Linked DNA regions of Homo sapiens: region 2 is reported to be linked to region 1. The links are microRNA targets in miRTarBase. Many come from high-throughput screens and were not tested one by one. Region 1 holds a microRNA gene; the other region holds the end of a gene's coding sequence.

Region 1 (3,125 bases):
CGCAGAGCCCGGCAGGCGCCGCCGTTGCCTCCGCCTCCGCGCGGTCTCCCCGGGGCCAGCTGGGACCCCGAGGGCTGGGGCGGGGGCGGGGGCGCGGGCGACTGCGGCGGGGCCTGGAGGGCGCTGGTCCCAGCCCAGGGCGGGGTCCCGGGGACGCCCCTCGGCCTTAGATCCGCGAGCGGCAGCTCGGGCCTGGGGGCGGGGCCTGGCGGAGAGCGACCCGCTCACTCTGCCCGGGCTGATCTCGCGAGGGCCGCCTGGTCTCGCGGCGCTGGCCTGTGGGCGGAGCGAGCCCTGAAAGGCTATAGGCGAGGGGGCGGCTCCGCGGGGCCGGGCGAGGAGTCCAGAGAGCCATGGCCGCCCTGCGTGTCCTGCTGTCCTGCGTCCGCGGCCCGCTGAGGCCCCCGGTTCGCTGTCCCGCCTGGCGTCCCTTCGCCTCGGGTGAGTGCGCGGTGAGAGCTGGCGGCCCGAATCTCCTCCTGACTCCGACCTGCACGCCCAGACCAGATCCCAGACCGCACCCCCCTCCCACCTGACCCCGCATCCCCCACCTGACCCCAACCCACACCCCTCTTCCGCCTGACCCCGCACCCTCACCTGACCCCTACCCGCACCCCACTCCGCCTGACCCCGCACCCCCCCGCCTGACCCCGCACCCCCCCACCTGACCCCGCACCCTCCGGCCTGACCCCTACCCGCACCCCACTCCGCCTGACCCCGCACCCCCCCACCTGACCCCGCACCCCCCGGCCTGACCCCGCACCCCTCTTCCGTCCGATCCCGCATCCCCAGGGCCTGACTCCGCACTCTCCTGCCTGACCCCGCACCTACCACCTGACCCCGACCCGCAGCCCCTGCCTGGCTCAGGCCTGCAACACCCCCCTCGCCTAGTGCTGCACCCCCCACCTGACCCGCACCCACAGCCTGACCCAGGCTTAACACCCCCCCACCACCCGCCACCCCGCACCGACACCACCCACCTGACCCTGGCCCGCACCCCCACCCCCTGCCTGGCTCTGCAGGAGGCCACTCTCACCAGGCCACGTCCTGCGGGAGGCCCGGCGGCTGGCTGGTACTGCCCCAGTGCCAAGACCTCTGGCCAACTGGGCGCAGGGTGGGGGTTGTAAAAATCCGGGGTGTTCCCTCGGCTCTAAGAGCAGGCGTAGCTCCTGTGCAGCCGGCCAGCCCGAGAACAGGAGATGCAGGTGCATTTTGTCCTGGGTGCCTCCTGACCAGGGCCACCCCTCAGAGGGTCCTAAGGGAAAAGCTGACACCTCCTCCCCAGCCACAGGGGGCTGCCCTCTTCCTCCCTCGTGGCTCACCCGGGGCCCCACTCATGAGCGGCCATCACCGGCTCTAGTATCTGAGGAATCTTGGGCCATGCCTTGGGCTGGGGAAGAACTCTTGCTTCCTCTTCCTCCCTCACCCTGTGTAGCAGTGGACCACTGAGTTGTGTTGGTTTCATCTCCATGCTCTCCTTGGCCTTCGGCTTCTCCACCCTGACAGCAGCCCTTTCCTGGATCTTGCATGGCGGGCACTGCTGCCAGACACTTCACCTGTGATCTTCCAGTTACCCCTAGAAACCCACAGGATACGGCGGGGCACAGTGGCTAATGCCTATAATCCCAGCACTTTGGGAGGCTGAGGCAGGTGGATCACCTGAGGTCATCAAGACCACCTTGGCCAACATGGTGAAACCCCATGTCTACTAAAAATACAAAAATTAGCCAGGTGTGGTGGTGTGTGACCGTAGTCCCAGCTACTCGGGAGGCTGAGGCAGGAGAATCACCTGAACCCTGTAGGCAGAGGTCGCAGTGAGCCAAGATTGCGCCACTGCACTCCAGCCTGGGCAATAGAGTGAGACTCGGTCTCCAAAAAAAAGAAACCCATAGCACAGGGACTATGATCCCTGCTCTGCCACTAACGGAGGCAAGCATCCAACACACAGGCTACCTTTGTCTTTTCAGGTTCACCTTCTCACCCCTGGAACGCCATTGTCCTTTGTCTCCTTCCCACCTTGCTGTCCACCCAGCAGGCGCAGGTCCTGTGCAGCAGGCCAACCGAGAAGCGCCTGCGTCTCCCATTTTCGGGCTGGCCTGCTGCTCCGGACCTGTGCCTGATCTTAATGCTGCAGGAACACCCAGGATTTTCACATCCCCCACCCTGCGTCCAGTTGGCCAGAGGTCTTGGCACTGGGGCGGTACCAAGTGCAAGGAGCTGCCTTACACCCCCTCACCTGTTGGCATTTGTTGAAAGAAGGTGTTTCCTGGTGCCTTGTCTCAGCAGAGTCCAGGGCTGTCTCCAGAGTGGTGTCCTGGGAAGAGCTGACCAAGGCATATTAGGAGAAGGAAAGCGGCTGTGGGCTGTGTTCTGTGCTGGGGATTTTTCTTTTTTTCTTTTCTTTTTTTTTGAGACGGAGTCTCACTCTGTCACCCAGGCTGGAGTGCAGTGGCATGATCTCAGCTCACTGCAAGCTCCACCTCCTGGGTTCATGCCACTCTCCTGCCTCAGCCTCCCCAGTAGCTGGGACTACAGGCGCCCGCCACAACACCCGACTAATTTTTTGTATTTTAGGTAGAGACGGCGTTTCACCGTGTTAGCCAGGATGGTCTCGATCTCCTGACCTTGTGATTCGACCGCTTCGGCCTCCCAAATTGCTGGGATTACAGGCGTGAGCCACCGCGCCCGGCCCGGGGATTTTCTTTAGGACATGTTCAAACACATGTGAAAGCAGAGAGAATGGTACCAAGGCTACCATCTATCCTTGTGGCTGAGAGCTACACCTGGAGCCACTGAGGACTCGGCAGGGAGCCCTCAGAGGGCCTCTTGGGGTCACACTGTATCCACCGATGGGGCCACATCCCTTCCCCCACTCTCCCCAGTTTGATACCTGTGTGAATAGATACCCCTTTTTGCCTTCTTGCTCCAGGTGCTAACTTTGAGTACATCATCGCAGAAAAAAGAGGGAAGAATAACACCGTGGGGTTGATCCAACTGAACCGCCCCAAGGCCCTCAATGCACTTTGCGATGGCCTGATTGACGAGCTCAACCAGGCCCTGAAGACCTTCGAGGAGGACCCGGCCGTGGGGGCCATTGTCCTCACCGGCGGGGATAAGGCCTTTGC
Region 2 (3,000 bases), not on the chromosome of region 1:
CCTTAGGTGATCTGCCCGCCTCGGCCTCCCAAAGTGCTGGGATTACAGGCATGAGCCACCACGCCTGGCCAGATAAAAACTTTTTATATAAGTTAATCAGTTCTATGATTATCCCCTTTACATGCAACATTGGAAATGTTGGCTTAGATTTTAAGTGACTCCTCCAGAGCTAAGACTCACACTCAGTCTGGCCTCAAGCCTGAGTTCCAGGTCTCATTTTCCATTGAGCTGGTGGGGTGGGGGCATGAGGATGATACAGGAGTCCAACTCAGCTCCCGGCTTTCTAGATCTCTTCTCATAGCATGGAATCCCAGAATCATGAAGGATGGAGGCAAGAGAGGGACGGGTTACAAGCAGAAGACAGAGTTCCTCTGGAACCATCTAGCTGGTCTTTAAAACTGTGGGCCATGGCCAGGTGCAGTGACTCACACGTGTAGTTCAGCCACTCAGCAGGCTGAGACAGGAGGATCGCTGGAGCCCAGGAGTTCAAGGCTGTAGAGCATCATGAATTGAACCTGTGAATAGCCACAGCAGTCCAGCCTGGGCAGCATAGCAAGATCCTATCTCTAAAATAAAATAATAAACAAGTAAATAATAATGTTTTAAAATGTGGGCCTGGCCCAGGGGTAAAAGCCTGATGCAGGAAGAACCCAGTGCATAGAGTATGGCATAAGCTGAGATCACTGTCTCTTTTTTTTTTTTTTTTTTTTTTTGTGAGATGGAGTCTCGCTCTGTCACCCAGGCTGGAGTGCAGTGGCATGATCTCGGCTCACTGCAACCTCTGCCTCCTGGGTTCAAGCAATTCTCCTGCCTCAGCCTCCCAAGTAGCTGGGATTACGGGCATGTGCCAACACACCCAGCTAATTTTTGTATTTTTAGTAGAGATGAGATTTCACCATGTTGGGTAGGCTGGTCTCTAACTCCTGACCTCAGGTGATCCACCCGCCTCGGCCTCCCAAAGTGCTGGAGACCACTGTTTAACAAGAGAGGGACTCATGACCACACATGGAACGCTGATACTGACATGTGTCCACCTCTCTGGGGAGATGCCTCAGGATCTTTTTAGCTGGGGTGAATGCACGTTCCCAGGCAAGTTGGGGTTACAAGGGAGATGGTTTGCCCGGCACCTCTCTGAGTGAGGCATGTCTACAGGTTGTGTGAACACCCAATGTAGAGAGTCCCTCTCCGCAAGGCACACTCAGACCCACCACCCACGGGCTCAGGGGGCCTTGCTGTGGGCCGGGGCTGCAGGGAGCTCCCCATTGCTACTTCACCCAGACAGTCCAACACAGTCTCAGTGAGACCACGTCCTTCATGCCTCTAGGTATCTCCATGGGTCCAGAGGCTTCTGCCTGGGGTCACAGGCAAGATAAGTTGAGGGGGGACTCTGATTATCCCACCAAGCATGGCTTGCTTAAAACCTGGAGACAGGAGCTGGAGTGCTCCCGAGCAGGGCTCAGCAAACTACAGCCTGGGCGCCATACCCAGCCCAGTGTAGCCCCATCTGTTTCTGTAAATACAGCTTTATAAGAACACAGCCATGCCTCTTTGTTGACATGTTTGTCTGTGGCTGCTTTCTTGCTACTAGGACAGAATTGAACAGTTGTGACAGAGATCGCATAGCCCACAAAGCCAAAAATATTTACCACCTGGCTCTTTATAGAAAATGGGCTGGGTGCAGTGGCTCACGCCTCTAATCCCAGCACTTTAGGAGGCCCAAGCAGGGGGATCACTCGAGCTCAGGAGTTTGAGATCAGCTTGAGCAACATAGTGAGACATTCATCTCTCCAAAAATAAAACTAAATAAATAGCCAAGCATGGTGATGCACGCCTGTAGTCTCAGCTGCTCAGGAGGCTGAGACAGGACAATCACTTGAGCCTGGGAGTTTGAAGCTGCGGTGAGCTATGATTGCACCACTGCACTCCAGCCTGGACCACAGAGCAAGACTTTATCCCTAAAAAAAGGAAAAAAAGAACATGTTTGCCGACACCTGCCACTCTCTTGTACAAATAAGTAAATGCATTTACTTGCTCATCTAGACCAGTGGTTCACAATCAGTGTGAGTTTACCACCTGGGGACATTTGGCAATGTCTGGAGACATTTTTGTTTGTCACAACTGGGAAGGGGCATCTGGTGGGTAGAGGCCACAGATAACCACTCACCATTCAACAATCCGCAGGACAGCCCCACAACCAAGAACTGTCCAGCCCAAAACGTCGATAGGACCAAGGTGGAGAACCCACTCTAGGCCTATTACCTGGCTCCTGTTCTCCCTGGAGGCCCAGACCAGGTGCTTTCTAAGCTTGTTTGCCCTGTAACCGCTGGGCAGAATCAGATGACACCAGAGGGTCCTGTCCTGGGCATGGATGCCCCTCCAGGGTGCTTCGGTCAACCCCTTGCCTCCCATGGCCCACAAAAGTAAGGACTCAGGTGAGTGCTCACCACAGTGATCTGCCAGTCTCCCGGGGCCCCGGGCCTTTGCCCAAGGCTGGTACTACGAAGTCGCACAACAGTCAGACCAAACTCAGCAAAAAGTGACAAGCAGCTTTAATTCCCTAATGCAGTCTCCAATGGGGATTTACAGCAACACTGCAGGACCAGGAGATGCTGAGTGGCTCAGCCTCCTCGGCGCTTCGGGCGGCGACTCCACCCTCTTCCATGACAGTCTCTCCAAGGGGATGCGTGCCTCTGCTGTCTTCAGTTCAAGGGACACGTGTCCTGGCTGCAGTGGGTTCCATTTCTTCCTCCCACTCCCTCTCCCTCTCCTCCTTCTCCGAGCTGCGGGCCCCCATAGCACAGTAATACATAGCCTCGTCCTCAGGCTGCAGCTCAGAGATGCTCAAATACCCCCTGTTCCTGGCCACATCTTTGGATCCAGAGAAGCGAGGGGGGACCTGGGGGCCCTGGCTCTTGTCTGATTGTGAGAAATATCTCAGCAGGAACCTGGGAGGGTGGCCCGGCCTCTGCTGGTACCAGTAGACGCTGTACACACCGATGT

What was found. Region 1 holds the annotated microRNA hsa-miR-3944-3p (UUCGGGCUGGCCUGCUGCUCCGG, at 2,086-2,108, shown strand). A microRNA usually pairs through its seed, bases 2 to 8, with sites in the 3' UTR of a target mRNA and lowers its output. Matches are read on the target gene's strand: a 7mer-m8 pairs with bases 2 to 8, a 7mer-A1 pairs with bases 2 to 7 and ends in A, and an 8mer does both.
Region 2: miRTarBase lists VPREB1 as a target of hsa-miR-3944-3p. Seed matches in the 3' UTR shown: 7mer-A1 at 2,635-2,641.

Annotation. Positions count from the first base shown.
Region 1 is chr10:133,370,562-133,373,686 of GRCh38, reverse strand. MIR3944 (microRNA 3944) reads left to right here and starts at 2,024; the gene lies at 2,024-2,131. ECHS1 (enoyl-CoA hydratase, short chain 1) reads left to right here and starts at 333. Exons shown (of 8, transcript NM_004092.4): 1 at 333-441; 2 at 2,930-3,125. The coding sequence starts at 354. RefSeq lists a silencer at 61-570.
Region 2 is chr22:22,245,042-22,248,041 of GRCh38, reverse strand. VPREB1 (V-set pre-B cell surrogate light chain 1) reads right to left here. Exons shown (of 2, transcript NM_007128.4): 2 at 2,527-3,000. The coding sequence ends at 2,705. It also overlaps IGL. Among named protein-coding and RNA genes, the nearest start is that of VPREB1, 1.8 kb to the right of the region's middle.